3 linked regions of the Homo sapiens genome follow. The main gene of each other region encodes a partner of the protein of the gene in region 3 in a complex. Each region holds a gene or a part of one and is shown on either strand. Other genes may lie near its edges.

The links.
Region 1: GATB (region 3) and QRSL1 share a complex: the UniProt entries of both Homo sapiens proteins name them as parts of the heterotrimeric GatCAB amidotransferase (AdT) complex.
Region 2: GATB (region 3) and GATC share a complex: the UniProt entries of both Homo sapiens proteins name them as parts of the heterotrimeric GatCAB amidotransferase (AdT) complex.

Annotation. Positions count from the first base shown.
Region 1 is NC_000006.12:106,625,725-106,634,726, reverse strand, and holds the start of QRSL1 (glutamyl-tRNA(Gln) amidotransferase subunit A, mitochondrial), read right to left. Parts: upstream 5,150-9,002; 5' UTR 5,046-5,149; coding exon 5,022-5,045; intron 4,885-5,021; coding exon of another isoform or gene 4,851-4,884; exon of another isoform or gene 4,641-4,850; intron 4,401-4,640; exon of another isoform or gene 4,236-4,400; intron 1-4,235. Other genes in the region: RTN4IP1 (NAD(P)H oxidoreductase RTN4IP1, mitochondrial isoform 1 precursor), read left to right, coding at 5,706-5,979. UniProt on the Homo sapiens protein: Allows the formation of correctly charged Gln-tRNA(Gln) through the transamidation of misacylated Glu-tRNA(Gln) in the mitochondria. The reaction takes place in the presence of glutamine and ATP through an activated gamma-phospho-Glu-tRNA(Gln).
Region 2 is NC_000012.12:120,455,276-120,464,424, forward strand, and holds the end of GATC (glutamyl-tRNA(Gln) amidotransferase subunit C, mitochondrial), read left to right. Parts: intron 1-1,800; coding exon 1,801-1,904; intron 1,905-4,631; coding exon 4,632-4,684; 3' UTR 4,685-6,743; coding exon of another isoform or gene 6,744-6,887; 3' UTR 6,888-8,474; downstream 8,475-9,149. Other genes in the region: SRSF9 (serine/arginine-rich splicing factor 9), read right to left, coding at 6,744-6,887, 8,675-8,847. UniProt on the Homo sapiens protein: Allows the formation of correctly charged Gln-tRNA(Gln) through the transamidation of misacylated Glu-tRNA(Gln) in the mitochondria. The reaction takes place in the presence of glutamine and ATP through an activated gamma-phospho-Glu-tRNA(Gln).
Region 3 is NC_000004.12:151,669,339-151,675,491, forward strand, and holds the end of GATB (glutamyl-tRNA(Gln) amidotransferase subunit B, mitochondrial isoform 1 precursor), read right to left. Parts: exon of another isoform or gene 3,559-6,153; coding exon 3,424-3,558; exon of another isoform or gene 2,251-3,423; intron 1,965-2,250; coding exon 1,836-1,964; 3' UTR 1,166-1,835; downstream 1-1,165. UniProt on the Homo sapiens protein: Allows the formation of correctly charged Gln-tRNA(Gln) through the transamidation of misacylated Glu-tRNA(Gln) in the mitochondria. The reaction takes place in the presence of glutamine and ATP through an activated gamma-phospho-Glu-tRNA(Gln).

The sequences.
Region 1 (9,002 bases), on a different chromosome or scaffold from region 3:
GGATGTGATCTCGCCTCACTGCAGCCTCAACCTCCGAGGCTCAAGTGATCCTCCCACCTCAGCCTCCTGAGCAGCTGGGACTAAAGGCATGCACCACCATGCCCAGCTAATTTTTGTATTTTTTGTAAAGACAGGGTTCGCCACATTGCCTAGGCTGGTCTTGAACTCCTGAGCTCAGACAATCAGCCTGCCTCAGCTTCCGAAAGTGTTGGGTTTAAAGGCGTGAGCCATTGCACCCGGTCAGTCTTTGTGCTTTATTACTTGCTTTTCTAAAGATCATGGTCCCTTAAGAGTCATCTGAAGGAGCTTTTAAAATTTTAACTCAGATCATGTCCACAGATTCAAAACTTTCCAGAAGATTCCCATTACACTTGGAATAAAATCCATACTCCCTACTGTGGCCTCAAAGGTTCTCCACAATTTGGCTCCTACCTGTCTCCCTAACCTCTTCTCTCATTGCTCTCCTCATTCACTTCTCTCCAGGCATATTGGCCCTTTTGCTATTCCTTGAACATGTTAAGCTTGCTCTTGTTTTAGGGTCTTTGTACTTACTGTTCCATCTGCCTGGAACACTATTCTCTCAGATCTGCCCAGTGTTCCCCCTTCATGCCCTTCTGGTCTCTATTAAGTATTATTCACTCAATCAGAGAAATCTTCCCTGACCACTCTAGCTAAAATGTCCAGCTCCCCCAACTAGTTCTCATACTATGATCTACTTAATTTTTCTCCATAGTACTCATACTACCTGAAATTATATCATTTACTTTTTTTTTTTTTTAAAGTGTTTAATGGCTGCGTTTCCACACAAAAAAGTTAGGTTTCAGGAAGCAGGAGCTTCTGTCCGTCTTTAATGCTACCCCCCAGTACTTGGAACACAGAGGTACTCACTAAATGTTAGTTGAATGAATAACAGTTGTTTAAAATTTAGAATCGATTTCCCTATAGAACAATGATTAGTTTTTCTAAAGTTGAAGCTCCAAGAAGCCAAATGAATATATCATTCTTTAAACTTTAGGATTAATAATATTAGCCTGGTGCCTCACTCCTAGAAACACTGGGATCATGCCACAAAAGACAAAGGTAAAAGTGAGATTTCCTCCCCCTTTCTGAATGTACTTGGGTAAAATTTACAAATGGGAATTTTACCTATTTGGCATTTTACCTCCTTTTTGTGCCTATTCCCAGGACTCCTGTTACCATAAGCTTCCACTCACATCCCCCAAATTGCTGCCATCATTTCCAGCCCTTCTCCCTAATTCCCCGCAAATTTCCCCCTCTTCAACTGATTATCTCAATTAAGGTATTATGAAGAAATTTGAACTGTTATAATTTACAACAATGGGTGGAAAAATTGTTCAACCTTCCCAGGCATCTGTACATATTTAAAAGAGAATTAAATTAAAAGATAATTTGTATGAATTAATTAATCTCTAATTGGTAGAATTTAGGGCAACAGTACAGTGATGTGGAAAAAATACAAAGTAGACAGAAGGTAGTTTTAGAGCTGGGGAAATAACCACCAAATATTTTGCATGCTAGGCATTAATCAGTATTTGTTAAAGGAGTGATAAAGTAAAAGCAATCATGCCAAGGCAACCTCTGGATTTTCCCCTGGGTCAGCTCTCCTAAATAGTTCTTTTCTCCCCCCATGCGGCAAAAGTTGTTTTTCACAATGGCTAACTCAATGACACCAGAGAGAAGTAGCACTAAAAAAGGTAGCACTTAAGGAGCTATGACAGTTGTCAAAATCAAAATAGAGTGACTTGTGTTAAAATCCTGACAAATGGAGCCAAGGAAGGTCAAGAAGAGAGGGTTCTCACGCATGAATGCCTGATAAGAAGAACTATCACACTCCAGCTGACAAGGGATTGATAACCGAAGTATATAAGGAGTTCAAACAACTCAACAGGAAAAAATCCAATAATCAAATTAAAAATGGGCAAAAGATTGGAATAGACATTTCTCAAAAGAAAGACATATAAATGGCAAACTGGTATATGAAAATGTGCTCAACATCACTGATCATCAGAGAATTGCAAATCAAAACTACAATGAGATATCATCTCACTCCAGTTAAAATAGCTTCTATCCAAAAGACAGGCAATAATGAATGCTGGTGAGGATGGAGAAAAGTTGGATGAAATGTAAATTACTACAGCCACTATGGAGAATAGTATGGAGGTGCCTTAAAAACCTAAAAATAGAACTACTGGTTGGGCACAGTGGCTCACACCTGTAATCCTAGCACTTTGGGAGGCTGAGGGAGGAGGATTGCTTGAAGCCAAGAATTCAAGACCAACCTGGCCAACATAGTGAGACCCCATCTCTAAAAAAAAAATAATTAAAAATAAATAAATAAAAATAGAACTACCATACGATCCAGCAATCCCACTGCTACGTATATATGCACCTAAAAGAAAGAAAATCAACATAGCAAAGACATATCTGCTCTCTCATGTTTATTGCAGCACTATTCACAATAGCCAAGATTTGAAAGCAAGCTAAGTATCTACCAACAGATGAATGGATAGAGAAAATGTCCTACATGTACACAATGGAGTACTATTCAGCCATAAAAAGAACGAGAGCTTGTCAATTGCAACAACATGGATGGAACTGGAGGGCATTATGTTAAGTGAAATAAGCCAGGCACAGAAAGACAAACTTCCCATGTTCTCACCTATTTGTGGGAGCTAAAAATGAAAACAATTGACCTCGTGGAGGTAGAGTAGAATGATGGTTACTAGAGGCCTGAAAGGGTAGTAGTAGGGGTGGGAAGTGGGGATGGGTAATGGGTACAAAATATAGTTAGACAGAATGAATAAGATACAGTATTTGATAGCACAGCAGGTGATTACAGTCAACAATAGTTTATTGTACGTTTAAAAATAACTAAAAGAGTATAACTGGAACGTTTGTAACACAAAGAAATGATAAATGCTTGAGGTGATGGATACACCATTTACTCTGATGTGATTATTATGCATTGTATGCCTGTATCAAAATATCTCATGTGCCCCATAAATACATACACCTACTATGTACCCATTAAAATTTTTTTTTAAAAACAATCATAAGACTGCAAAAAACACAACCTTGCACAAAGGCCATTGCAACCTTCCACACACACGAGTACTTCTGTAAGAATGTCTGTCCAGCAACTGGCCATCCAACCTTGGACTGATGCCACCTTTGTGACTGATCCTTGTGGCCAAGGATAACTGATTCAAAATAATTTAAGTAATCCTTCTCATTCTGTCTTTAAAAACATCCCTTGCCTCAACCTTCTTGAATAGGCACATAGTTTACAATATTACACATATTCCCATTGCATTGCTACTCCAAAATAAATATTTTCTTTAGAGTCTCTTTCTGTTACTTAGATTGACAGTGGAAAAGGCAGAAAAAGGAAATAACATATTTTTATAGGTTGTATTTAATTTTAAAACAAGTTTTGGGTGTTGTCTGTTTATTTATTTTTATTTTATTTATTTATTTTTTGAGACGGAGTCTTGCTCTGCCGCCCAGGCTGGAGTGCAGTGGCGTGATCTTGGCTCACTGCAAGCTCCGCCTCCCGGGTTCACGCCATTCTCCTGCCTCAGCCTCCCGAGTAGCTGGGACTACAGGCGCCCGCCACTACGCCCGGCTAATTTTTTGTATATTTAGTAGAAATGGGGTTTCACCGTGTTAGCCAGGATGGTCTCGATCTCCTGACCTCGTGATCCACCCGCCTCGGCCTCCCAAAGTGCTGGGATTACAGGCGTGAGCCACCGCGCCGGGCATATTTATTTTTTAAAGAACAAATTTGATTCGACGCAATTTAAAATGATAACATAATAATGTATTTTGGGGGAAGAACTATTATTTAAAGCCTGTGGATTTCAATTTCTCATTATATATTACAGCTATCTATAATTATAATTCCACGCTGCCAGCTGGGAAACAAACAAAACGACAACTTCTAGGGTGGAATAAAAAGGAAGATGGAAGGCAGTTTAGGTCATCAGCGCCTACTTCTTACCAGAAATCACCTGGAGCCTCCATTAAACCATACTCCCGAACTTACCACACAGCTCTAATTAAGTCTAGAGTGGGGCATAGTTTTAGTTTCAACAGGTGCTTTATGTGACTCTGATAGCAATGGGCCTGCAGACAGTTCTAAGGTTGAGTGACGTGAACCAGGAAGCAAAAAGACCCGAATTAAAGCTATAACAGCAGAAATAACGTAAGAGGGCAGATTCCAGCCATATCTGCAAGATAGAATGAAGAGGGCTTAGTGATTTATTGGATATGAAAGATGAGGAAGAATCTAAAGGCAAATGAGATAATAGTTGTGCCATTAAAAAGAGTCTATTAAGAATTCAGAAATACCAGAGCTTTTTTAAGACGGGGGTTGAGAGGTAAGTCCTGTTACAATGATTACTTCAACACCGATTAAAGTGAATTTGAGGGTGCTTATGTGACATTTAGAAGAACTGCCCAGAAAGCATTCACAAATACAGTCTAGAATTCAAACACGACGTCCAGGACATGGAGACACGGGTTAGGAAATCACTGGTATCTTAGTGGTAGGTAAATCCTAGAGAACGAATTCTTTGAAAAAAGCCAAAAATTACTCATTTGAATTTTGCAAACTACAGTTTCGCCGGGCTTCTTAGCGACAACTGCAGCTAAGTGTCGGGGACAGAAGAGAGACTGAAGTGGCCCCGCAAGCCCCCTTTGGCAAAGCCCACTCCGAGACCATCCGGATCCCGACCTACACCAGAGCAAATGTCTAATGGTGAGAAGCCGCTTCACCACCCTACAGATCCGCGGTGCAGAGATTTCCCTGCTAAGGTCCTAACTCCTGAATGGGTACGGCGAGTACACCCGAAGAATCGAAAGGTACTTATCCCCCACTCAGTTCTAGAGGAAGCAGCGAGGTGGGCCAAGATGCGTGGTAAGGCCCAGGGACTCTTTGTCAACGAAGTCCGTTAAACTTTCCGCCCTCCCGGGGGCCTCAGCGGGCCAATTCCACTCACTTCTCGGAGGCTCCGGCCCAGCATGGTCCTCGTGCCCAGCCTGCCACCACAGGAGCCAGGCAAGGGGGAAAAAGAGGTCACCGGTCGCTAGTGATGTTACATGGGCGCAGCCATCTTTAATTGTCACTGAGCCCTTCAACACCGAGTACTTGGATTGGTTGAATTGCAGCCCGAGGAAATGATCTTTGTAGGCGATTGGTTGGCGCCGCAAAGCCATCCCGGCGGCTAAGGAGAGCGGGCAGGCAAGGAGATTCCGGGCCAGGGTCGCGGCGGCAGTCGGCAAGCGTTCGATTCTCTGGCGTTGGATCGCGAGCGGTGTCTGCTTGTCCCGCCGAGGGCTCCCAGGACAGGGCAGGGATCTAGGGGGTTTGCGCACCTGCTTTTTAATGCCCCGCCCCCCCTTTTTTTTTTAAAGTGGAGGGGGTGAAAGTGAGGGAGGAGAATGGACAGAATACTGACTGGAACGTTAATTCGAGCATTTCATATGCGAAGAGCGGAATAACAGTTCCGTATTCTTCTTTCAGTTTCTCCATTAGATTAGCTTCATTTTCGAATGCTCCGTTTTGCATGCTTAATTTTGAAACTAGCCCGTGGTTTGGCAGAATTTGACTGAATTCAGGGGTGAGAGTTTGATCCAGTCCAAGTGTATTTGAATTTGAGCACGCAGTTCAACCAGTGTTTACAATGGAATTTCTGAAGACTTGTGTACTTAGAAGAAATGCATGCACTGCGGTTTGCTTCTGGAGAAGCAAAGTTGTCCAAAAGCCTTCAGTTAGAAGGATTAGTACTACCTCTCCTAGGAGCACTGTCATGCCTGCTTGGGTGATAGATAAATATGGGAAGAATGAAGTGCTTCGATTCACTCAGAACATGATGATGCCTATCATACACTATCCAAATGAAGTCATTGTCAAAGTTCACGCTGCCAGTGTAAATCCTATAGACGTTAATATGAGAAGTAAGTTTTCAAAAGACATTGTTACCTTTTTTAAAAAAATCACTTTCATAAGGTATGCCGTTTTAAAAAATTGACTACGCTTCTTTGGTTTACATAAATGAATCATTTAGGTTTTTAACAATACCTCTGCAAATATTTCCAAAATTTTTGAAATTGCAATGGCCAGGGAATCCTTCTGGCCATTTGTATTGACAAAATATAAGCTTGATTGTTTTCATGCGTCCTTAAATATGTAAGTTCAGACTTGAGAACTGTGTCTGTAGCTAACTTTTTTTTTTTTGAGACTGAGTCTCACTCTGTCACCCAGGCTAGAGTGCGGTGGCCTGATCTCAGCTCACTGCAACCTCCGCATCCTGGGTTCAAGCAATTTCTCCTGCCTCAGCCTCCCGAGTAGCTGGGATTACAGGCGCATGCCACCACACCGGGCTAATTTTTTGTATTTTTAGTAGAGATGGGGTTTCACTATGTTGGTCAGGCTGGTCTCGAACTCCTGACCTCAGGCGATCCTCTGCCTCCGCCCCCTAAGTGCTGGGATTACAGACGAGCCATTGCGCCCTGCCTATGTTTGTAGCTAAATTTCTGTCCAGGGAACTTTGTGGTATTCTGAGATCCGTCACAGGCTTCGGAAGTATAGTTGTTTCCTAGTCAGTTTAGAATTTATGGGGTTTTTTGTTTGTTTTTGAGACAGAGTCTCACTCTATCGGCAGGCTGGAGTGCAAGGGCGCTTTCCTGGCTCACTGCAACCTCCGCCTTCCGGGTTCAAGCGATTCTCCTGCTTCAGCCTCCCAAGTAGCTGGGACTACAGACATGCGCCGCCACACCCAGCTAATTTTTGTATTTTTATAGAAACGGGAGTTTCACTGTGTTGGTGGGAGGCTGAGGCAGGAGAATCGCTTGAATCCGGAAGGCGGAGGTTGCAGTGAGCCAAGAACGCGCCCTTGCACTCCAGCCTGCCGATAGAGTGAGACTCCATCTCAAAAAAAAAAAAAAAAAAAAAAAAAAAAGCATTGAAATGACTTTACTGTGATTGTCTCATGAAGTCTACGTTTGTATTCTTTGTTTTGAAGTAGTAATTGCTACTACCAGTTGGGCATGCCGTTTTCCTTTATTCTTTTTATATTAGGCTTGAAGAGAATTCAGTTTTTTATAAGATATGTCTTTTAGTGGTAAGTTTTACTCAATGATCAGCATGTTTTTTCATCTCCTTTGATTGTAAGTTCTTTCAAGATTGATCCCATGCTTTGTCAACCTGTTTCAGTGCTTCACATACGCAGTTGTCATTCAGTCACTATTTCTATGCCTTTTTATATTTTTGTTCTGACTTAAGATAACAAACTTAAATTAGCAGTATTTTATCTATGAGTAATTTTTACATTTTGTCTTCGTTTAGGTCTGTTAGCTTTTTATTTCTTTAAATGCACATGCGTAATTCATGCCGTGTACATTTTCATTTAAACAGAATGGCTGTATCTAGACTTTTCTTGGCTGCTGTTTAATAATATAACACTGTAAAACATTTTACTTTTATATAGTATTCTTGAAACATCTTAGTTTTTTATGACTTGAATGGGTAATATTATTCGCAAGTTATCCTCTTTTTTTTTTTCTCCTACCTTTTGAGGATATTTATTGTCATTGCAGAAGATATCTGAAACAGTAGCTTGGGGAAATAAAATAATGAGTAGAAGACTGTAAACTGTAGGAAGCAGTTATTTCCCTTGGCAAGAAAGCAAGAGACATGTCTATTTTATTTGAAAGATGAAGGCTGGCTGTTTTTCTGGAGACGGCCACTACTGTTGGACGTAAAATAATAAATCATAGAAATGGCTAAAGAAATGAAGAATTTTTACATGGGGAAAAAATGCAGCCAACAGCATCATACCAACAAAGTTTGGTGTCTTTAGATGGGATTAAAGTCTTTAAACTGATGACAGATTTAGGATTTTTCAAATTGGCCCAACTCTCTGAACAAGTCAAGGTGTCAACCCCTGTCAATAGGATGGAACACTTAAGGGCCCCATTCAGTCATCCGTGTCACCAAACAGGTTCTCAATTACTAACTGCCAGCTGACTACATTCTGGGTTCAGGGGCTTGTTAGATAGTAACAGTGAGCCAAGGCTACTCAGTTGATGTATTAGCATTATCAGGGGACCAAGAAAACTAAAAACAACCTTGGGCTGCAGGCTCTGTATCTCAAAGAGGACTGAAACCTTTCTGCAGCTCTTAAACAGCAGCTAAAGTTTGACACGACTAAATGTCCACTTCTGTTGTTCAAACCACATAGAAGTTTCAGTGAATAATTGTTTAATTATCTTTAGCAGTGGAAAAGGAATGTAAGGCAGGAAAAGTGAAGCACATGACTTTTGTGAATATTACAAGTGAAGTTGTTTTTTTTTTCCCTGACAGAGTATAATCCTGACTCCCCAGATGGCAAATGTTGTAATGTTGGTATAATGGCCATCAGCTTAGATTTTCTGGGACTTTCCCACCTTTCAAACACTTTATCCCATGTGTCTTGATTTTTTATTAGTAACACAACTCATGCAAGCTACCCACCTGTCAGCATCTCTCTCGGTATCTTCTACCTTCCCTCCTGCTGTATGGATTAGCTGTCACTGCTTTCACATAAGGCCAGCCCTCGGCTTGTGTTTCTGATCCCATCCCCCTCACCTACTCTGGGATATCATTCCGGCAGGTGTCTCCTGCATCATCAGTCTTTTCTTTTCTACTGGATCATCTCCATTAGTATACAGACTTGCTGTTATTTCTCCTTTCTTAAGAAGAAGGAAAAGGCTGGGCACAGTGGCTCACACCTGTAATTCCAGCACTTTGGGAGGCCGAGGCAGGTGGATCACCTGAGATCAGGAGTTCGAGACCATCCTGATCAACATGGAGAAACCCCGTCTCTACTAAAAATTAGCCAGGCGTGGTGGCGCATGCCTGTAATCCCAGCTACTCAGGAGGCTGAGACAGCAGAATCGCTTGAACCCGGGAGGCGGAAGTTGCAGTGAGCCGAGATCAC
Region 2 (9,149 bases), on a different chromosome or scaffold from region 3:
CTCCCGCCTCAGCCTCCCGAGTAGTTGGGATCACACGTGCGTGCCACCACGCTTGGCTAGTTTTTGTATTTTTAGTAGAGATGTGGTTTCCCCACGTTGCCCAGGCTGGTCTTGAACTCCTGAATTCAGGTGATCCACCCGCCTTAGCCTTCCAAAGTGCTGGGATTACATGCAAGAGCCACCACACCTGGCCTTTCTCCCCCACACCCCGCCGCCCCCCTCCAAGAAATTTAATGTCTGAAAAGATCATACTTGTTCAAGGCCACACAGTTAAGAATGTGCCAGGTCCTGTAACAGACTTCAACTTTCTAATATTCATACCATGAGTAAATATTTGTTGTGTCTAGCTTTGGGCTGGGTGCCACAAAAAAAGAACTAGTCCTTTCCTAAAATAATCTTATTGTGACAACTTAGTTCTCTTTTTTTTTGAGGCAGAGTATCGCTCTGTCGCCCAGGCTGGAGTGCAGTGGCGCGATCTCGGCTCACTGCAAGCTCCGCCTCCCGGGTTCACGCCATTCTCCTGCCTCAGCCTCCCAAGTAGCTGGGTCTACAGGCGCCCACCACCACGCCCGGCTAATTTTTTTGTATTTTTAGTAGAGATGGGGTTTCACCGTGTTAGCCAGGATGGTCTCGATCTCCTGACCTCGTGATCCGCCCACCTCGGCCTCCCAAAGTGCTGGGATTACAGGCGTGAGCCACCGCGCCCGGCTGACAACTTAGTTCTTATGTGCAGCCTTAGCCCAGATGTACCTGTCACATCTTTGTCCCTCTCTGACATGACTCAAACGCCATTAGGGTCTGCCCTCAGTCTGTGCCCACTCAAAGCAGGAGGAGCGTGGCTACTACCGAATACCATATCAGTGATTTAACAGACTGCTTATTTTTTTAATCTAAGTATCTGGAAGCAGGCTTACACACTTTTACACCTTGAAACAATAGTGAAGCCTCATGCAAATGTTCAAGCTCTTGTGTGTTTTTTACCGGTTTGCCATCTGAAGGCTTTAGTAAAGTCACTAGGTCCCACAGAACACTGGGAGATTCTTGAGCTGTTGGTGGCACATCTTGCTCAAGGGCAGGCACATCCACCAAAGTGGCTGTGGTGGAAAAAGCATTCATTTTAGGTGTATCAGATTGGGCTGAGATCCCAGTTGTTACTTAGCAGCCAACATCCTTAAGTTACTCTTGTGGCAAGTTTGCTTCCCCATCTCTGCTTAGCTTTCCAGCTTCATCTTCCACCCCGGCAGACCACACCCCAGCCTGCTAAACTCCCTGTCCTTCTCTGAATCTCTGAGCTCTCGGCTCTATTGCTTTGGGATTCATGCTGCTATACGTGCCAGGAAGTCCATTTCTCATACCTTCATCCCCCAATCCAGCTATTTCTTGCCCATCCTTGAACAGTGACATCAGCTATTCTGAGGATGTGCTACTCACGCAGGCTGGACTAGGTACCCTTTCTATCCTTTGGCAGGCTGTACTAACCTCTGTTAGATTTAAAATATTGTTTTTGTAATTGCTTTTACCTGTCCCCACCAAAAGACAGTTGCCCATATAATCATCAAAAACTATTTGTTAAATCAATCCAGAGAAGTAATTAGCACTTACTTCTCAGGGTTGTTCGGTCAATCTATAAACTGTAGGCTGTTATTTGGTCTACTGTTGATCCCAGCTTCTCTATCTTTGAACAGTGCCCATTAACTCAAGAATATACTGCTTCCTTGTTCTCTCCTTCTTGCCCCTCTCCATCATCCCCTAAAAGCCCCCTTCTCTGAGAGGGTAACCTTGAGCTTCTGGGTTTTGTAGATGTCTATACCTGAGATCCGACAATGTGGTAGAAGGCAACTGTGCTGATGAATTACTACAAAACTCCCATCGCGTCGTGGAGGAGTACTTTGTGGCCCCCCCAGGTACGTGCTGCCCAGAATGGTTTAACAGATAGTCTCACAGTAACCTTAGGAATGAAGCAGGAAGCATGAGGACCAAAGATGCTATGTGAAGGCACTTTGAAAAGGATGAAGTGCATACAGATGGTGGCATTAAGGTGGCAGTAGGGTCCAGGGTCATACTCACCTCTAGGGGGCAGTTAGTAACAGGAACAAGCAAAACAGGATTGGGGGCATGCGGGAGGTTTAAAGTAGGTGGAAATCTGGAGCTCAAGATCTCCCTAAAGGGGCAGCTGGCATTCAGTGTTTCTCAAAGCCACAGTTAAGACCCTGCCAGATCCTGTAATCGACTCCAACTTTCTAGTATTCATACCATGAATAAATATTTGTTAGGTCTAGCTTTGGGCTGGGTACCACAAAAAAACCAGTCCTTTCCTAAAAGAATCCTTTTTTTTTTTTTTTTTTTTTGAGACGGAGTTTCGCTCTTGTTGCCCAGGCTGGAGTGCAATGGTGCAATCTCGGCTCACCGCAACCTCCACCTCCCGGGTTCAAGCGATTCTCCTGCTCAGGCTCCCCAGTAGCTGGGATTACAGGCATGCACCAGCACGCCTGGCTAATTTTTTGTATTTTTAGTAGAGACAGGGTTTCACTGTGTTAGCCAGGATGGTCTCGATCTCCCGACCTCAGGTGATCCACCCACCTCGGCCTCCCAAAACGAATCTTATTGTGACAACTTAGTTATCATGTGTGGCCTTAGCCCAGATGTTTCTGTCACATCTTTGCCTATGACATGATTCAAACGCCATTAGGGTCTGCCCTCAGTCTGTGCCCATTCAAAGCAGGAGGAGCATGGCTGCTACCCTATCAGTGTTGCCAGGCAGGAATGTAAACCCATTTCTCCAGAGAACCTGGATACCTGACATTTTGTGTGATATTTCTTAAATTTTTTTTTTTTTTTTTGAGATGGAGTCTCGCTCGGTCACCCAGGCTGGAGTGCAATCTTGACTCACTGCAACCTCTGCCTCCCGGGTTCAAGCAATTCTCTGCCTCAGCCTGCCGAGTAGCTGGGATTACAGGTGCCTGCCACCATGCCTGGCTAATATTTTTGTATTTTTAGTAGAGGCAGGATTTCACCATCTTGGCCAGGCTAGTCTTGAACTGGTGATCTACCCGCCTCAGCCTCCCAAAGTGCTGGGATTACAGGGGTGAGCCACTGCACCCCGCCGATATTTCTTAAATTTTAAGTGCTAGCAACCAATTCAAAATTTAAAAAACAAAATACCATCCAAGCCAAATAAAACACATCTGCAAGCCAGGTGCAGTCTGTGAGCCATCAGTTTACAACAGCTGGTATAGAGATTTGCATCATCTACCTACTGTAAATATTTTAAATAGAAGCTTTAAAATTACTCTGGGCTGACAGTAAAATCCAGAACCTTGGATAGGTTGACTGTTTTTATCTCCTCTGCAGGTAGGTGAATACTTGGAGCTGTTGTACTACCCCTCTGGGCATCTGGGAGTGGGACTAGCCAAAAGCAATCAGGTAGCCTGCTAAGTGCCAACTTCCAGTTCAGGATATCCTGAGGGAGAATCATTCTGAGCAGACTCCACAGAAGACATTGGCCCTGGTCAGCTTAAGGTGCCAGTTAAAGGCAGGCTCTGGTTGATGCAAGGATGGGAAAGAAAGCTAGAAATTTTGTGAGCTAAACTTTTTGTTTGTTTTGAGACGGAGTCTTGCTCTGTTGCCCAAGCTGGAGTGCAGTGGCGCGATCTCGGCTCACTGCAAGCTCCACCTTCCACGTTCATGCCATTCTCCTGCCTTAGCCTCCCAAGTAGCTAGGACTACAGGCGCCCACCACAACGCCTGGCTAATTTTTTGTATTTTTAGTAGAGACGGGGTTTCACCGTGTTAGCCAGGATGGTCTCTCTCTCCTGACCTCGTGATCGTCCGCTTCGGCCTCCCAGAGTGCTGGGATTACAGGTGTGAGCCACCGCACCCGGCCGTGAGCTAAACTCTTAATCATGCCTCCAATCCACTAAACCACCTGTTAACTGTGGAGAGAAAGGAGACTCTCCATCTCAGAGCCTGATAGTTGTGGCTCCAGCAGAAATATCTTTTGATCAGACATGCTATCTCCCACACAGAACCTTACTTCAGACTTTGCTTTTTGGGACCACCTGAGTTCATGGTCAGTGTTTCCTTCTAGTCCTATCTGCATATTAGTGGCTAATCAACCTGTATACTCCTTACTGAAAAAGGTGAATTTGGCTACACTTAGAACTGATTCTTTCAGATACTCCCAGTTAGGAAAACAGGACAGTAGCTACATTACTTCCATATTTTCCATGAGAAAGTAGTGATCAGTTAGCTCAGTAGAGCCAGCTGGGCGGCAGGCTCAGCTATAACATTCTCTGTTGTGGCCGGGCGCGGTGGCTCATGCCTGTAATCCTAGCACTTTGGGAGGCCGAGGAGGGCGGATCACGAGGTCAGGAGATCGAGACCATCCTGGCTAACACGGTGAAACCCCGTCTCTATTAAAAATACAAAAAATTAGCCGGGAGAGGTGGCGGGCGCCTGTAGTCCCAGCTACTCTGGAGGCCGAGGCAGGAGAATGGCGTGAACCCCAGGGGGCGGAGCCTGCAGTGAGCTGAGATTGCGCCACTGCACTCCAGCCTGGGCAACAGCGAGACTCTGTCTCAAAACAAAAACAAACAAACAAACAAAAATTCTCTTTTGTTATTTTCAAACAGGTAATATCTCTTTGCCAAAGCTGGATGAACAAGAGCCATTCCCACACAGCTGAGTAGCTCATTCTGGAAAGGGGGTACTCTGTGAACATGTGGAAGCATAATGACAGTATTTTTTTACTGTGAATACTAATGTTCCTGCTTTTTTCAGTCCCCTGAAAAAATGGATGCTCAAGCATTTCTTAATAACAGATTCTTCTGAAGACAGAATTGGGAAAGATCTGGCCCCAACAAGGCAGTGAGTTCCTGATGCTAACTGAGGTGAAAGAAAAGCAAAAGTCAGCTTCCAAGGAATTCACTTAACAGGCCTGTTCAGTATGGAAGACATTATTTATCTGCCTTTAACTCCCCCCAAAGGACCATACCAACTGCATGAAAGTGAACTTTTCTATCTACGTAACTGGTAGACGGAGCATCTTGATCACTATGTGACAACCTTGGCTGTCATTTTTAGTTGCCATTTGCATTGATTTGAGCAGCCCTATCTTTACCGAACATACCTGAATTTGTTCCTGGGCTCCCACTTTCTTCCCAGAAGAGGGCTAACTTCCTACTAAGGTCTGAAGAGTGTTGAAAGTAGACTAGAGCTTGGGAACTCCTAACCTAGAACTATCTGCCATCCCACAAAGTGATTATATGCCAAAGGGATACTAGTCATACCTAGTGTTTCTCTTTCTGAAAAGAGAACTTATCCTAAAATTAGCCCTGGGCCTGGGACAAAGGAGCCCTCTCCGCCCCCAAAATGATTATTAAATTGAGATGAGTCCAGGATAAAACTCAGATACCAAGGATAAATGAAACTTATTTAGGGATAAAAGTGGGCTGGGCGCAGTGGCTCACTCCTGTAATCCCAGCACTTTGGGAGGCTGAGACGGGCGGATCACAAGGTCAGGAGATCAAGACCATCCTGGCTAATGCGGTGAAACCTCATCTCTACTAAAAATACAAAAAATTAGCTGGGTGTGATGACAGGTGCCTGTAGTCCCAGCTACTCGGGAGGCTGAGGCAGGAGAATGGCGTGAACCCGGGAGACGGAGCTTGCAGTAAGCCGAGATCGCACCACTGCACTCCAGCCTGGGCGACAGAGCAAGTCTCAAAAAAAAAAAAAAAGTGATAGAATCAGAGAGTTTTTCCTCTAACCAAACTGCCAAAGTTGGTTTTGGCTAAGAATTTCCCAATAATATTTATGCTGCTGCTCATTTTTTTAGTTTTCTGAGACAGGGGTCTCCCTCTGTCACCCAGGCTGGAGTGCAGTGGTGACAGATCACTGCAGCCTCCAACTCCTGGGCTCAAGTGATCCTCCCACCTCAGCCTCCTAAGTAACTGGGACTACATATGTGCATCACCACGTCCAGTTAATTTTTTTTTAAGTAGAGGTGGGGGTTTTGCTATGTTGCCTATCTGGTCGTGAACTCCTGGCCTCAAGGGATCCTCTGGCATGCCTTGGCCTCCCAAAGGGCTAGGATCACAGGCAAAAGCCACCGTGTGTTTATTTTTCCCATTCCCTTCCTTTATCTGCAATGCTTTTTTCTTTAAGGCAGCCTAATTTACAAGCTTGGCCTTGAATTAAAAGAGAACCCAGAACCCGCTCTTGGAGTTTACGTTCTCAAACCAACATCAGAGCAACTGTCTATCCCCATATAAATAAAGTTATCTACCCCTGCTCCTAACTGGGTACAAGTTATGACTACAACTCAGTGATTTTTTAAATTAGTGTGCCTATTTGGTGAAATCTGTGAACTTAATCAAGGACAACCACACATGTCAATTACTAAACATTTAAAATATATTTCTAAACAGAATGGGCCGACTCAGTCACAGTAACTGTTGATCTCCATAGTAGAGCAACCCACAAAGACAGAACTGATTTTTTTCCCATAATCAGGGGTGAAAAATATACAACTTGTTTCTGAACCAAAACCACAATTTCTGCAGTTTAAAATGTTTCACTGCTAATATGGCCCTGGTAGAAATTATGTAGTTTTTTTTCTTCTTTAAAAAAAAAAAATTAAAAAAATTTCCTAAGACACTAAATCCTCAATCTGGAATGTAGATTCTGAGCACAAAGCAGCTCAGTTAACCTAAAAAATAAAGAAAAAATTCCCATCACCTGTCTCAGTAGGGCCTGAAAGGAGAGAAGTAGTGTGGGGAACCCCTGCTTTGGTATGGAGAGTCACGGCCCCTTGACCCAGACCGAGACCGTGAGTAGCCATAGCTGGTGCTTCTCTCAGGATAAACTCGGATGTAGGAAGTTTCACCCTGAAATGCAAACAAAAACAAAAAGAGTAAAGGGGAAAAAAATCAGAGCCAGAAGAATAAGCAAACCAACATCTAACAATAATAGTTAAGTATTGAGCACTTACTGTGTACTCTGTGCCTGGCATGAGGCTATCTCATTAAACCTTCATAACATTATGAGGTAGGTACTCTTACTATCCCATTTCAAGAATGAAGAAAATTAAGACTTAAGTTATATCATTTGCCCAAGGTAACACAATAAATGCCAATTTGACATGTTGATACTCAATTAACTATGATAAACAATATATCTGAATTACTGCCATTGACCCCCCTCAAAGCTAAGAACTGGAAAGGATCTCAGGGGTCATATAGTTTAATCCCCTGCCACCTCATGTATGCATCTTTGGATGGGCATCTATGGAAGGAGCTAGCCTGTATTTAATACCTTCCAGATGTGAGGACCTGAGCTAGATGCTTTAGACGTTATCCTCTTGCTCTAGATTCCTGGCAAGTCTTGTGATGGTGCTATTATGTGACCATTTTGCCCATGAAGGAATCGAGGTCCCAAGAGTAGTTCAGGTAAGGAATTAATAAGCAGCAGAGGAGTCATGTCCAGGCTGGCTTGTCCCCAGGCCCTCTGCCTTCAGCCACCATTCTCAGAAGATCCAAAGATGCCAAGGGGAAAGAAGCCGGATGCTTTTTCACCTTAGGTGAAAGTCAGTAATTGGAGTTACCCTTTCTGAGGCCCTGCTTTGCAGTATAACTGAGGATCAGGTGCTGTTCTGTTTCTGCTTCAAATTCAAGTCCTAGAGGACAGTCTGAACAAAAGCATCATTAAACCAGGGAAGGACCAACCTCTAAGCCAAAAACTAGGCAATTATATGAATCCTCAGAAAAAGAAATGAGCCCAGAGACCTGTGTCCCCAAACATCCGTAAATCTCATAGTAAGGCAGGACAGGATAACCAGAAAAAAACAATGTCCAACTGGTCTGGTTTCTGGTCTCAATGGTACCAAAGGGATAGTCACCACCTCAATCAAACTGAGATCCAAAACAGCAGCTGCTTTCCTACAAGGAAAGACATCAAGAACTACTGAGTCTGAAGGGTGACATAATCAACCACAAGAAAATGTTACGGTTTAGCCTGGCACAGTGGTGCATGCCTGCAGTCCCAACTACTGGAGAGGCTGAGGTGGGAGGACTGCTTGGGCCCAGGAGTTCAAGGTCAGCCTCGGCAATATAATGAGACTGTCTCTAAAATCAAAAATTAGAGAAATATAAAAATTATAAAATTAAAAAAGAAAATGTCATGATAGCTCAGGTTTCAGAGAGGATGCTGCACTACTCTGGGAAAAAAGTGAAGTGACAGCTCAGCCCTGACAGCAGGACCTAGAAGGGCTGAGATGAAGAGGCTGACCTGTAGAGCTCAGCCTGGACCCACAGGAGGGGTAGTTGAGTTCACAGAGGGATACTGCCATTTAAGCTGGTTGTGAATGGGGTGGTATGAAGACCGACTGCACTAGTATTCTCTCCAGGTTACAAATACCATGACCAAACTGTGTAATGTGATACTAATATGCAGAATAAAGCATATTAAAAAACAAACGTACCATGAATGCATACTTCTTTCAGCTATGACCCTGAAGGACTTAGGCATAGCAAATTCCATGGCTTTGTCCACCTAAGATAGATCTCTTATGGTACTGTGAGGTTACCAAATGGCATGGCCTCTTGCTACCTCTGCTAGGTCAGGTTCAAGTGGAGTGATTTGAGTACAAGCTCCTCAACAGAAGGCAAGGACCCACCTCATGAGAGCGGAATTTGGTGTCATCCAGTTTACGCAGGGCATATTCCATGTCTTCTTTTCTGAGATACTCGACCATCCCCACTCCATCCTTCTGCACATCAGCATAACAGACATCCCCAGCTTCTCGCATGTGATCCTTCAGGTCCTGCCAGCTGCCTGACGGAGGAAGTCCTAGGCATGGAGAACATAAGAAAGCCCACATCCTTCAGCTATGTTAACTGCCCTGTTAAGAGCCAGCAATACCTATGGTCCTTTCTCCATGATCACTTAAATCCTGAGGGTCCCCAAATCATAAACCTTGATAAGGGACATGAAATCAGAAAAGAGCACTGAAGTATGTGTGGTAAATGAACCACCTTGAGAAGCTGGTTTTAAGTTCATCTTCCAGAGACCAGGCCTTTTCAACAGAGCAAGAAGTCCATCCCATTACAGGTTTAGTATCTTTGAGAATTCATAGCCTCTTTCTTTGTCCT
Region 3 (6,153 bases):
TAATCAGTCCTTAATACAGTTTGCACTTGACATAATAGTTTTGGTAAATGTCTTTTTCTGGCTGCACCCCCTTTTAAGTAAGCCTTTAATTTTAAATGGTCTGGAAAGATCTTCGATGCTTTCTGTAAGGTTTAGTCACCAAGAAGCCAGAACTTTTGGTGAAAACAGAATTTATAAAATGAAACTGAACCTTCTCCTTTCTTACAAAATAAAGATCCTGTCAGACTCCAGTCTCAGACCACCTTTGCCCATTTGTAATTCAGACTTGCAGAGTGAGGAGAGAACTGCTTCAGCCTTACTGTCTTGTAGAGAGATTTGGTGAAAATCATGTTACTTTAGACCCAGTAGTTTTCAGGACCGCAACAGGATGCGGGGCACCTGGCTTCCCGGGTAAGGTCACATAGTCTCTTAAAATTCTGTCACTAATTTTTTTAAACGACTTTTTTTAAAAAGCCACCTCCTCATGCCTGTCCAAAATGAACCACGCAACTGGTTACCTTTCTCTGCCTACCTTTTGGGCTGGGGAAGAGGGGCACCTTTCTCATCACTCTCAGGGAAGTCCTGAGGAACTGTGCAAGCCAGGAAGCATGAGTCGCTGAATTGGTGATGGAGGGGTGTCCACTTTTTTCTAGTTCCTCAGCTGCTTCTGGAGCAGTGTTCACAACGGGAATGTTTTTACTGTCCTTGGTAGGCTACAGGTTCACAGCTTCAAATCAAGGCCTCCAAGGATTTTATTCTCTTACATCACAGTTTTGACAAGTATGCTTTTAAAAAACAACATTTGCAAAACTGGTCTTTAAGCGACGTGAGTCAGAGGTAACAAAGGCATATATATACCGAACAAAGGTGCTCCGGTGCAGTGGAGAGAACAGTATTAGTGTCGCAAGCACAGGAGTGCAGACAGCCCCGCCTTCATCGTGATGCCTGCAGCACACCACGATTATCATGAGAGGTCAAGATTTTGATTTACTAATTTATAATCTTATTTCCAAGCAAAACAAGTCAATTTCATGTTACAACTTTTTTCTTGTTTCTTTTTATCTTGTTTGGCCTGAGGGTTGGGGGATTTGGGGGAGTTGTCAGCTGCACAATCTTTGAAGTGTAAGTTAATTTTTATGTGATATTTCAGTATATATTTTATTGATTAAATTTATTGGAAAACTTATTTTTTTAATTCATTTATTCTCAGACTGTGCCTTCTGGGATGGGGAGGGAGTTTAACAGGCAATATCACTTCTACTCAGTCGATAGGTTGATTAATTCTAATAATATCCTCCTTCCCCACCCTCTTGAGACCTCCTTAAACAAACAAATGTGTTTATACTGTGCCAGTTTATTTGGTTGTATTTTCATCTTTGTTAACCTGTGTTTAGGTCTGAAAACAATACATCCAAATTACAGTCTCTCTTGACCACTGCTAATGCCCATCACCTACAATGGCTGGCCCTTAGGAGTTGCTCAAAAATATTTGTTGAAGGAACTGCAGAATGAAAAGTTTTCTTAGAATGGGTAACAGTATCTCCAACATACATTTTATTTAGTTTAAAATTCCTTAATACAAGAAGGTGTTACTCCTTAACCACTGCTGCAGCCTCACCGGACCCTCCTGATGTGGATGAAGCAGGCGGGGTGGCTGCTGGTCGGCTGTGGAGGCACCTCCAGGCACAGGGCCTAGAGGGTGAGAACACTGGTGACATTAATGCCATAGCTGTGGCTTGGGACAGGGATTGAGAGGCAGCTCTCAGGGCACATGGGCATCAGCTTTCACAGGATCCTGTTCCCAGTCAGGCTGCACTGTTTGTTGTTGTCCCTTGGGCAAGGGGATCCCAAACATCTCACAATGACAGCTTCTTCTCCAGGATCTCCTTTATCATGACTGGATCTGCTCGGCTTTGAGTCGCTTTCCGGACCAACCCAATCAGTTTATTTATAGCTCTGGGGTTTCTGTTCTTCACATCCATTACCTAGAAGGACAGAAATTACTTACTTAAGAGGAGAAAATGAAGGGATTCATGCCCCCAAATCCCAAACTAAGGCTTAAGTTTACTGAAAATTAAATTCCGCTTATTTCCACTAGTATTAGACATAAAATGTAGAACAGAAAAAGGGGAGGGGCCTCACTTCTGAGTAGGTTTCTAGGCTCCTGTCAAAGGAGATTTTTGCTACTCTGCTTTCTGATTAAAATGAGCAAGAAGTGATTGCCGAAAGCCAGAGAAGCTGGCACGTGGGAGCCAGGGCCCTCCCCTCTGCGACGCCACAATGACCGAGGACACTGAGTCTGGGGAGGGATAATCTCTCTGAGATGATGAATCACTGCGTCTAATCAGTGAGGACACCTCTCTGATTCTCAGTGATGTTCAGCTGAAATGTGTGGCTTTCCTTCTCCCCCTGCTCCCCACCAAGAAGATTCCTTTATCAGAAAGCAGATCTACACACTGGCCGAGTCTTCCAGAGCGCTGGGTCGGGGGGAGTGTGCTGTGTGGGCAGGGGGAGTGAGGAAGCCAGGAGGTGCTGAATTCCTATCAGATAGCCACTGACTCTTAGGGCCACCACGTGACCTCCTGCTCTGCAGCGTCTCCAAGGGCAATGACATGAGGATCTGCACTCAAGTGCCACAGAACAAGCCTGAAACTACTGGCACGTCTTTATCAGTCACCACAGATGAGGCAGGAAGACGAGGCTGTGGAGGCCCAGTGCAGGCTCATTTTCCTTATCGAGAGCTCTTTACAGAGCTGTGAGTGTCCCCGGCAAGCTGATGGGTGGGTGGGTATTATTCTGAAAAAGATGCCGACAATTTTTTTCCCCACTGAAAAAATATCTCTAGACAATATGATTAGACTTGGGGAGGGAGGGATGCCACTCGTTTTAGCTTTTATGTCTTGTGCTGTGCTAAGAACACAAAATGACCTGGTTTTCAGTCATGCTCCTGTCAGGGATTTTCTCCACAATTTATGAATACTTTTCCCTTCTGCCTTTCTTCCCACCTCTTAGAAGCATGAAGCTGAAGTTCCTGTACTCTCCCTGCTCTGCCGGCACACCTGCTGGTTCTTTACTGGGAGGTCCTTAGGAAGTAGCGCTAACCACAACAGATTCGAAATGCCAACCCTGGGAGAGGGCGACACACCTGGGAGGTCACAGCTTGGATTTCGTGAGCTTGCTGACACCCTTTTAAACTACACCTCCATGGAGAGTAAACTCCAGGGGTGGCATCCTTCTTATAGGAAAAGAAGTTGTGTTTTTCCAATATCCACCTATTTCATCTCTTCTGACCTTAACTAAAAAGATGACAGTGAGGGAATTATTGATGAAACTGGGTCAGCCATTCTTAGGAAGAGCCTCTGGGCTGCCACAGGGAGCGATGGCGAGGCTCTTGGGCATGTCCTGGGGCTGGCTCTGGCCCTCTCCCCTGCCCGAGATAGTCACCACTTGAGGATGGGCCTCCATCACAGAGTGGCAGAGCTGCTCCAGTGCCCCCTGGTCCTGCATCAGTTCAAGCTGCTTTTCTGAAACAATCTGCCCTGGAGTCTTGCCTTCCCTCTTCCACAGTTCCTCAAACACCTATGGACCAGAGAAGGGAGAGGAAAGAGAAATGAGAAGTCAGCTCTTCTGCCAGCTCCATTTGCAGTGCTGTGCTGTGTGGAGCTGGGGTGGGAATGAGCAGATTCAATTAAGTCCCCACTGCCTGGGCCTGGCCCAAAGGGAAAGGGCACCTGGCTGCCCTGCCAGAGCGTTGGCTCTCCTGAGGCATCCCTGAGTGCAGGGCTGGGGAACAAGGCCAGCTAGGTGGAGTGAATGCACCTGGGGTCTCCTCCTGAGGCTGAAGTCTCCCTCAGCATAAGGTGTGAGAGGACTCGGGCCAGCCAGATGCCCTCGTGCCCAGAGGGATGGTGAGTCCTGCCCGGCTGACTCCACATGGCGGGGGGGGGCCGCGGGAGGCGTGGAGGTGCCCATCACTCATGGGCGCCTGCTGACGGGAGTCGGCGGGCCACTGATGGATCTGTCTCATGGCCGCCGAATTAATTGAGGTGACATTTTGGTGAAGGATGGGGCCACACAGCCTGCAGGAGGTAACCACGGTACTAAATAAAGTCCAGAAACAGCATGCTGGGAAAGATGACTTTAGGGAGGCAGGAAAGTAGCCCCGTAATGAAGATACAAAATGGCAAACAACTGAAAACATAAATTAGAATCCACAGGGGCCCCCTGGCCTACCACATTCATCTCCTACAGGTAGAGCCGGACCCAAATCAGACTAGGATAATGAACGCTAATGTTTGGGGCATTTTTTTTTTACTTAAAAAATGACAACAACAAATCCCCAAATTCATCAAACCTGAGAAAAAGGAAACCATTTTCAAGGAAGGCTATTTCCTAGGGTAGCTGTTTTCCTCATTTCTCTTGTCTTCTAGCGAAAGCCAGAATTGGGAGCCGGGAGGAGGGCTTCCTCTGTTGGTCTCCCACCGGTGCCACCTCCGTCCAGTCCACAGTCATGACTGAACACCCAACTTTCCCTGTTACCTTGGTGGCCGAGAACGGGCCAACCAGGAGCCATTCCTCCTGGAAAAACAGAGCTCTTCCATAATTAGCACGAACAGCAAAGCAAATAAAAGGGAGATGCTCTGAGTCTCAGCAGGGCTCAAAGTCTTCCCCAGTCTGATTCAAAAACAAACCACAAATACTTATCACTGCTGGGACAGGCACTGCGCCTTCAGCCTGGTGCCTCAGAACGTGCGCTGTGACTGTGGCCAAGGAGGTGTGCTTGGCAGGTCCTGGGTAAGCTCCCTACAGGGCACCCCTCTGCCGCTGCCCGACTGCTCAGGAAAAGCCTGGCCCTACTCTTAGAAAAATACAGAATGCACGTGCCTCCAACTCAATTCAGCAGATATGTACGTGGCCTGACAATGAGGAAACCATTGGGAGAAAGGGGGCACAGAAGCGGGAAGAAACTTCCTCACTCTCAACATGCTTATCAGTGGAGTGCTGCCAGCAGAAGCACTGGGGACCTGGATGGCGTTCCATGGAGCTGCCCTGTAAGTCGGAGGAGTCCATCTGCCCCCTTTCTCTGACACGTTTATTTTTTGAACTAGGACTTAAATTTTAAAAATCATTTTCTAATAATAAAAGTTAATACACATTCACTGCAGAAAATATAAGGAAATACAGGAGAGATCAAAAGAGATCACCGGAATTCCCATTTTCTCAAGAAAACCAATGTTAATATTTTGGTGTTTTTTCTTCCCATCTTTTTCTTTCTGTTTTGTAACATACTTGGGATCATAACGTATATTCAGTTTGTGTCCTGCTTTCTTTCATTTAGCACAGAAGTACTTTCTTAATAAAAAGATCTAGCTAGTATCCATCAGATGTATTTATCATAATTTATCCCCTCCTCGTAGATATCTAGACTTTGACCAGTGTTGATTTTGTTCATCTGCACAGACTCCCAAAAAAGCTCCTAGCTGAAAACCTGGCTCAAAACAGAAACCACCTGTAAGGACTTGCTCGTGAAAAATCTACGCAGCAGTTCCCTCCAGGAAAACCAGGCGGACGAGCAGCCTGTGCCTGGAAGTAGGCGGGGCCCCTCCTGGGTCTGCGTCTGCAGACACAGACCAGGGAGCGATTTCTCAGCGCCTGTGGTAGCTGCTGCGGTGGGAAGCACACGGCAGACCCTGAGCAGGCTGGCCAGTGAGCCAGCCTCTTTCTGACGGGACCCACAGCTCGAATGTTGGCTGGATTTGCCTGGGCCAAAATAAGCGGAAGAGTGGCAGAGTGCTTGGGGATCACTTCCAATCACACCATTCAGAAGGAGAAGCAGTGCACCTCTAGGACAGATGCCTTCAAACGAAGAGGCTGGCTGCTCCCCGAGAAGGAGGGCCAGGCGGGGTGGTACCAAGCAGTGCCGCTAGAGAAACATCATTCAGCAGCCTCCTGGAACACATGGGAGCCCGGTGGCTGAAATGTCCTTTCCTCCCAGAGTTAGAATACATAATGTTAGTTAACTCCACAAATTAGTGCAGTGGCCATGACAGTCGAGGCCCCCAGTCCCCAGTCCCCTAGGCTTATACAACAGACGCCGGTTGTCCCATCCTTTGCTCAATCCTATTTAAGACGAGGATTGTGCACTCCTGGCTGGAGTCCAGGAGGGTGGGAGCC